Linked DNA regions of Homo sapiens: region 1 is linked to region 2. Evidence: fine-mapped expression QTL. Tissue or cell type: whole blood. Region 2 holds a variant in brackets; the other region holds the start of a gene. Each region is shown on its reference strand, or each on the opposite one. Region 1 holds the start of AOC2 (amine oxidase copper containing 2). Region 2 overlaps FLI1 (Fli-1 proto-oncogene, ETS transcription factor).

Region 1 (4,391 bases), not on the chromosome of region 2:
ATTTCCTGTCCCATCTCCCGCCACCCTCCTTAGTTTCCCTTAAAATGGAGAGGGTCTGGTGAGTTTCTAATTTTCTTTGTGGATCAGTGTGTGAGTCTGTAAGTTCCTTTCTGTCCTTGACAAAGTCTGTCAGGAACAGCAAGTCCTCTGTGTGCTTTGAGCCCTTTGTGCTTGAGAAATCTCTTTCCATACTTGCAGCAAGCTGTGTGCCTGCCATGAGTCAACTGTGATGACAGGAATGGGATGGCCCTCCCGATGAGGAGTGGCCCTATCCTGGGGAGCAACCCCAGCTTTGCTACCCTCTCCTTCCTAAGCCCCAGGTCGACCCCCACCCTGAAGACTCTGGACAGACTTCTTCCGACCTCGGCTCAGGACCCTGCCCTCCCCACCCCTACTGACCCTCAGAATTAGGAAGAAGCAAAGTGCTCCAACTCCAGCCCCATTGGGCCAGTTCACCCACCCAGTGTCACTTGAGGCTAAGGCAATCATGCCCAGCCATTACATTTAAACTAGTTTCACAATCATAGCAAGTCAGAGGGGCTGGGCGGGGGAACTCTTTTCACCTTTTACCAGATACCCAGTAGCCCAGTACCAGACTCACTGCACTGAATATGCTCAAACAGTCCCTGCCCTGTTGCCACTAGAGCTGTGGTGTTGGAACACCCTGCTCTTGCCACTTGTTATTTCAGCTTGACCTGGGAGATTCCCTTCCCTTCCCTCCACCCCACCTGACCCCGCCCCCAAGTCTCCATCCTCATCCCCTCAGCACTCACCTGCCACATCCAGGTCCAGCTTGAAGTGGAAGGCATGTGTGTGCACCGTTCCCAGCACTCTTTCCCCCACACGGTTCCCAAAGAGGAGGCCCTCCTCTCCCCCTTTCAGGAAAGCTGTGTTGATATAACCCGTGGCATGGACCCGCCCTTCAAGTGCCCCATTTGGGTACAACACAAAGTCCCAAATGTAGTCATAGTTGCCCACAGATGACACAGACCTGACCACAAGGGCTGAGCTGGCCAAACCACCATAGAAATGATTTTGAAGGTAATTGTGGTGCCTTCGAAGGGGCAGTCCCTGGGCTTCCTCAAATACACACACAGCCCCTGGAAGCAGCTGGACTGCCCCTTTGCCCACTAATATATGGATGTCCACCATCGTGGCTTGATAGGGGCAGTCCACTCCCCGCACCAAGCCTCGGCTGTTACGGCCGAGTCCAAAGCTGCTATCCAAATAGCGAGTCAGCATCGTCTTGGGTGAATCGGCACCATAGATAGATACACACTCCTGGACACTGACTTCATAGGCTATTCGCTCACCCTGGAACCGAACATCAAAAATCCTCAGGCCGCTGAACACCCCATGGCCAAAGGTAAATGACCAGAGGGAGGATACCACCAGGTTTCCTTGCACACTGTACTGGGAACCCTGGGGCGAGAACTGAAGAGGGGGAAGAGGACCTGGAGAGTTCCGAGACCTCAGGGATGAAGCTCCATTTGGTGGAGGTAGAGGGACTCTAACCACTTCCAACCGGCCAGACTTAAACTCCCGTTCCAACTGGCCCAAGTCTGCATAGTAGTGCCCAAGGTAGAAGACCTGCTGGACAGTCCAGTGGGCAGGGTCCAGGGCCCTGTGGTCCAGTAGTAGCTCCAGCCCCACGGGGTGAAGGAAAAGACCAACCCCTGAGATGTTATGGTAGAGGGCCATCCAGGTAGCTCGGTCCCCTGAGCGCAAGCCCCGAGGGGTGGCATGCACAGCTGCCAGGGTAGAGCCATTGTAGTTGAAGGTGGACGACAGGAAGATGGGTGCCTTGGGTAGCTCCACCTCTTTCAGATGCCTCCACATCTGTGTAAACTCAGCTCTCAGCACCGGGCGACGGTGATAGGGCAGGGGCCCGCCGTGACGCTCCACAGTCACATCCCGCATGTACGAGGGGTGAGGCAGCGGCCCCACCACCAGCTCACTCACATTGGGTTGGGGTTGTCCACCAAAGAGGACGATGGCCAGTGCCTCCCGGGCAGGTGGGGGGCTCCCCCTGTCCAGGTGGGCCAGGGCTGCAGCCTTGGGGGGCAGCTGCAGCTCCACTGAGAAGATGCAGTTGTCCGAGGGCTGAGCCTGGGCTGCGTCCACCAGCCCTGGCCCCAGCCGCTGGGTCAGAAAGCGCATCACAGCTGTCAACTCCTCTCGGCTCAGGTCTGCAAACAGCTGGCTCTGGCCAGGGTGTGGCCAGGGCTGGGCCCTATGGGATACAGAGGGGCAGTGGGGAGGCTGGCTGGAACCACCTGGGCTGGTCAGCAAAACATAGGCCAGGGCAAAGATGGTAATGAGGGACAGTGCCAGGAACGCCAGGACTATCTTGAGATGCATGGTGGATGCTGAGAGCTGAAATCAGAATTCTAACAGCTGCTCCTTCCAGTTACTGACATCAAGTCGGGGTTTATATTCGCTAGGATGGATAGGAAGGGAGAAAACTCCACCCCATGGGTTGGGCAGGAAATTTCTGACCTTGATTTATGTAATTCTGTTCCAATTTTCTGTCCTGTGGTTTGGCCCAGGGCACTGCTTCCACATGCATAGCCTCTTCCTTGCCCCTGAACTCCCACTGGTAGCAGTCAGTACCAACTACTGATTTCCATCATTTAGACCAGATGAAAGGGAATCTGGGTTAACGATGCTAACCTCCAGTTTCCACCTGGAATGGGTCTCAGGAAGAGTACAAACCTCAGATGCCCAATTAAGTTCTGCAGCCTGCATGCAAGCACTAAGCTGTCCATTTTCCTACCTCCTGGCAGGAACTGCATCCCAACAGCTCCAGGATTCACTGCCATGTTCAGCAGTAAGCACTGAATTCTACTTGTTGCCTAATGCCAAGCCCTTGATTTGTAGTCAGGCCATTTCCAACCAGTGGAGTGGCTGAGGGCCTGGGCTTAGTAATCAGGTTTGTCCACCAATCCCAGTTCCCTCAGCTGTGTAACCTTAGCGGAAATACTTATCCTGAGTCTCAGTGTCCTCATCTGTAACAAATAGATACAACTATCCTATAGATTCCTGAAGATTAAATGTGATCATGCACATTAGGTACTTAACAGCCTGGCACAGGGGAGGCACTCACAAACCGCTAGCTTTTGGTAGTCATCTCTGAAACAGAACAGAGCAGCTGCTCCTCCATTGTTCAAGACCTTAAACTCTTTTTACAGAGACAACGAGGGGATCATTGGAAACCAGAAGGCTACTTGCAAGGTGGAAGATGAGGAAACTTTATTTCAGAGGGAGATAGATTCCTAGGCAGCCCTCCAAGTAATTTGAAAACCAAAACTAGGAGTCTCCTCAAGAAACTGAAGACATTATTCAGGAAGAATTAGTATAAGGTAAAGAAAATGACTGGGTAGGACGCGCCTTGAACCAGTTCATTCCTTACACATGGAACGATAGCAGCCTCTACTGGCAGTTCATGGGTATCACTCGGGAAGGAAGGAACTAGGATCTTCTGAAAGTAGGGAGAGAAGGCAGCTTAGGTCTGGGAAGAGCTAACTTTCCCATAATTCAGACTGAACACAAATGAAGCACCCAACCTTGCTCAGTAGGCAGAAGCCTCAGTCTTTCCACTATACTGGGGAAAAGATTCAGCTCAACTGGCATAAGGACACACAACAGGGTGGCTAGGTGTCCATGGAGGTGGGTGTCCAAGCGTGCACACATATGAGCATGAGTACATCCCTAGCCACCAGAGCATTGCACCAGGGTCTGCGGCTTTAGAAAGAGGTCAAAGTACCTGTATTTTTAATAATTTCTTGACATGGTAAAAGAATTTTACATTACGATCCATGGGTGATAGGGTGAGGAGGAGGGGCAGTGGAACAGTCCAACAAACGAAACGGGAAACTGAGAAACACATGGAGGGAAGGGGGAAGGGTTTTAGCTGGAAGGGATCTGGAGGGTGGGTGGGAGCACTGCCCAACTAAAATGCAATTGGTTTGTTACTGAGTACTATTCGTGGGAAGACAGCATCCTGACTCCCTCTCTACAGAATATTGGGAGTAAAAATGATGCATCCCCGGTGGAAATATTATTGGGGGTTGGAAGACAGAGACAGGAAAAATAAGTCAGAAACAGACACTAAGAGTCACTGGCAGGCTGACTGCAGGTATCAACTCTCCAGCCGTGGTAGAATAAAAGAGCTAGGGGCTGAAGGGGATTAACACAAAAGCTGTTAACAATTAAGTGATATCTCTGGAAGATTCGAGAGACAGGAGGCAACTCTTCTATAGTTTTGACTTGCCCAGCACATTTCCACATACACAAATGTGTATATGCACGTGTGTGCATGCACATACACATACACACCAATGATTGCTTTCCCCGGAAGCCCGACACTATAAATAAAGAGAAATAGTTCC
Region 2 (4,391 bases):
TGTCCTGCTCCCACTGAGCCCTGCCATCCCTTCCATGTAGCTAGCTGGATTCAACAAACTCAGTTTGAAAAAGGGCTTTCCGAAGTCCCTATCCACTTGAGTTAGATCTACTGCAGAATACTGCCTCTTGAGCACTGAAAGATATCCATATTCTTTCACAGAAATATATACATCTTTTTGAAAATGTTTGGTTGGGTTTGTGGTCGGAGGCTTGGCATGGTTGTTTGTTTGTTAGAATGTGCCTCCTTTGGGAAGAATGCAAACCAGGGGCTGTATTGGGATGCTGAGTCAGGCTCTGCCCTCAGTGACAAGGGGTCTTTGTCTTGTTCATGGTTCTCCCCACACACCTGCATACACACAGATACCCACAAAAGTGCATTTTGAAAACTAATAAAAATTGCACTGAAAATATTTAACTTATGCAAATACTACTATAGCAGAAAGTACACACATATACAAAACAGCAGCTATCTTTTCTAGAATCTGAACAAAATTTTCTGTTGATTATATATACAGAATTTGCTGAACATTTGCCTTGGGAAACCAATAAACAATGCAGTTATTGGTCCACTGTCAGCTTAGGCTTCTGTTTTGAGATGTTTTACCTATAGTGGAAATTGTCATCTGTACCTGGCATGTTTCTGGGTGTGTCTAAAATGAGCATGTCTCAAGAAATCTTTCCAGGTTCCTACATTCTCAACCAAAGTTGCTCAAGTGAGAAAGCAACTCAGGATATCAAGCTACCAGTTAGAATTTCAAGTATGACAAGCCTGCTACAAGAGTGTATCTTATCTGTGGCCTCTAGGGTTTCAGAAGCCAGAGGGCTCATGCTACCGCCAAAAGCTGTGGCTTACCAACTCGTATCACCCCTTTCATTGGAAGTTTCTTAAGATTCCAAAATGTGAGAATTATTATCAGGTGTTCTTTGTCTAATGATGTCTGATTGCTCTGCATATATGAATGAATGCCTACAGCTCTTCGGAAAGGAAAGCAAAGAATAATGTTCTTATGCTGGGCGGGGGTGGAGGGTGGGGACTTAGGGGGTGGTTGAATGTTCAGCTCTAGTAGCTTGCATTTCCTGTTTAGTGGGTGTGAGGGGTTTACACAAGAAAGTCTCAGTGTTACGCTAGATGGATAGCCTCATCGATCATGTCTAAGGAATCTCTGCCTAAAGATGATCAATTTGGCCTCTGCATACCACAAGGAGGTTTCAGTATTTAAGAACTTCGGGATCAACCATGTCCTAATTCTAGATACGTGTTTCGATTGTCTTGTCCTATTTGTTCAAAATTCCCTTCAAAGTTAAACAATTTATCAGGCCAGCTCATAGGACCCTTGAAGGAAAATTTGAAAAACATCTTATTATTCTAAATACTATTTTCTGTTTGCAGGAATGATATGAATTTGCAAAGAGACTTGGCATCTAAAGGTGGGGGGAGGCTCAGGAAGCCCTAGGAAGTTCATAAGAACTTTACAACTTAGTTTCCAAGTTCAGACTTCTGGTTCACTCAGCTACCTAGGCCATCATGGGTCACACAGCTGTGATAAAGTTACCTTTCCTATCTTATCTAGACATCTGATAATGTGGATAATGTGAGGATTATTTCTCCATCATCAAATTGATCTCTAAAGGAATTATACCAAACATACAGTCACAAAGTTCTCCCAAATTGGTGATCAGCTCTCTGAAAATTAAAATCAAATGGTATCTTAGGAAGTATGCTATTTTCTTAGATGTATCCAAACCTTAGAAATAAAAAGCCCACCTTAAATCCATCAATACAAATAAGCGATAACCATGATTACTTCTATGTTATTATACAGGACTTTAAATATACACTGAGGTGCCAGAACAAAGTCCTAGGCTGGTTGAATTCTTGTGTCCAGCTCCATCTCTGCCTCTGTCTCTTTTTAATGGAAC[A/T]GGCAGATGATGCATTTTCTAGACTTATTTCCCCTCATTTTGTTGTTATCAGTAATAATAATGACAAGGAAAATTGTAGATTATTTTATAGTTTAAGACATTGATCTTAATAGGAGCCTTCCCACATCTATAATCTTATTTAATTACTCTAATAAACTGGAGAAGAAGGCAGGATTATTCCCCTCCCCCACTTTGCTGATGAAGAAACAAAGGTTCTGAAGGACTACGTTCGTGGTCATAAAGCGGGAAGGGGAAGAGTGTGAGGCCAACCCTCTGGACTCCCTTCCGTGGGGCCCTTTCCACGAGGCTGCACTTTCTCAGCTGCATTCTTTGCCCACAAACACTACAGCAATTAGTACATTTATTTTTCCATATTGATACTATTTTTCTTTCCCTTTTGATCTTGCCCCTTTGGTTAGATGGTAGGCGATTTTAGGGCAAGATCTTTATCTGTTCGTTATTTACCGTTTGAACTTTCAGTGGGCTCATTAGGGGTCCAGGGACATTTGCTGATTGATGGCATGCACTGGACATGAGCCTGCTGGCTTTGACATTTTAAAACTGCACACTTCCCTCAGTGACAGTATGCCCAAGCAACAGGCCTCCCTGACATTTTCTCAAAACCAGGAAATGAAACTGGCCACCAAGAGCAAGTGACCGCCAGCCAGGGCATTGGTGCAAACCAAGCAAAACACACCACAGTGCAGGCAGCGCGGGTCACAAGGATGAAGGCATTCGATCTGCAGTTATCTTTGAAGAAATGTAACATGTTCCTTCCTCCCACCGTGGTTTCAGCCACAATCATCCTCCTGTTTTAAACAGGTTGAATTATGTTCCTATACAATATTTGTACACAAAACCCAACCTTAGACATGCTTTTCCCTATGATCTTGGTCTCTGCACACGCACGAGAATAGCCTTCTTCCATCTGAGTACTCAGCTCGATCCTGCTTAGCTTCCAAGATCAGATGAGGCACGTTCAGAGCACTGTGGACGTGGACAGCGCAGCCTCCTCCAAACGTTTTGGCTGAATTGGAGGACAAAGCAGGGCTGTTTAATATGCAAAACATCTTTTTCTCGCATTTTCCTTTCTATAGCTTCCCCTGTTTAACCACCCCTCTCCACCTCGCTTTTAACCAAGTCAAATCTTTGGCAAATGGTTTTGGGGATATTTTTCAGCACGTGGTAGCAAAGATATTTTCTGTCTGTGGCCTCGGAGCCCCTGGGCGCTCTGGGGAAGCTGCCATTGCACAGGTAGCAGTACTCTGAACCCCTGCAGCTCAGCAGCAAGCCCCGGTCATAATCATGTGCTCTGTCGCTCCTCTCCTCACTGTGCTGATTGCAGCCCAGATAGGAGGAGCATGTGGGAGCTGACTCCTCACTGAACAATGACTTGAGAGAGAGAAAGACAAGAACTTCTTTGCATATGAATGCATCAACATGTGCCTCTCTGGGTACCTTTGCTCCATGTGAAAGGAAGGGAGGCAGCCAAAGTGACCCTTGGCTAATTAGACAAAGGCAGATGGGCACAACAGAGAAAACTTCTGCTGGATCCAGTATTTGCACAGCTTCAGGGACTTTCAGCGCACAGCATCTTATATCACACATGCATAACATTCCTGCCAACTGAGTCCAAATGGCGAATGTGATCTTTGTAGCTTGACCTGTGACACCCAACAAATTCTAGGCAATGGTTGGATTTGCTGTCTGTGACTCACTTTGCATGTTTCCATTATTTTTATCTACTCTGGCCCACTAACTTGACCGTGTTCACTCAGCATCAGCCAGGTTCTAAAGAGTGAGGGGAAGCTGAGAAAGCTTGAATGGCGGAGTGTGTAGAGCTACTGAGATGCTTCCGGGACACCAGCAGGACACTAATCCTACTAGTTTTTCTCCTAGTGTGGATCCTGGACTTGCTGCCTCAAAATCACTTGAAGTGTTGTTAAAAATGAAGATTCCCGGGACCATTCCAGATCCAGTGAATTAGAATCTCTGGAGCTGGAGCCGAGGAATCAGCATTCTTTACACTCCCCAAGGGAATTTTGTGCAGATGTAAGTTTCAGAGCCACTGAGTTAGGTACTCAGTGAAAAAAAAAAACCTCTTGCAATCAAATTTGATTGGAAAACGCTGCAGACTGCATTGTGCGGCCCTTTCCCTTGGAGCTTCAGGATCTCCATTAGTATATTCAAGGCTCTGATAAGTCCTGATGCAAAGAGACTTGTTTAAGTTCCTTTGAATTTCCCACACTCAGTTGAACACAGAATCCTGTTTTGAGAAAGCAGCTTTGAGCATCCCTTGGACACATTTGAGAAGCAATGAGATGCTTTAGTAAGAGCCACTATTGCAAGTCGCTGAAGGACTCTACTTCTCTAGATCTGATTTTTCCTCTCTTTCTCTGCCACAAACCTCCCAAACAATTGTAAAAGGAAGTGTGCTTCTCTGGGCAAAACAAGGGCATGTCAAGCCCAA

The links.
Region 1: AOC2 starts here. The variant in region 2 is fine-mapped to the expression of AOC2 in whole blood (TOPMed, PIP 0.98).

Annotation. Positions count from the first base shown.
Region 1 is chr17:42,842,597-42,846,987 of GRCh38, reverse strand. AOC2 (amine oxidase copper containing 2) reads right to left here and starts at 2,408. Exons shown (of 4, transcript NM_009590.4): 1 at 774-2,408. The coding sequence starts at 2,361. It overlaps PSME3 (proteasome activator subunit 3), which reads right to left. Exons shown (of 11, transcript NM_005789.4): 11 at 3,228-4,391.
Region 2 is chr11:128,732,805-128,737,195 of GRCh38, reverse strand. The region is part of intron 1 of FLI1 (Fli-1 proto-oncogene, ETS transcription factor); the gene reads right to left. Among named protein-coding and RNA genes, the nearest start is that of SENCR, 39 kb to the right of the region's middle. RefSeq lists enhancers at 2,602-3,147, 2,901-3,190. The variant A/T (reference allele first, on the strand shown) is at 1,922.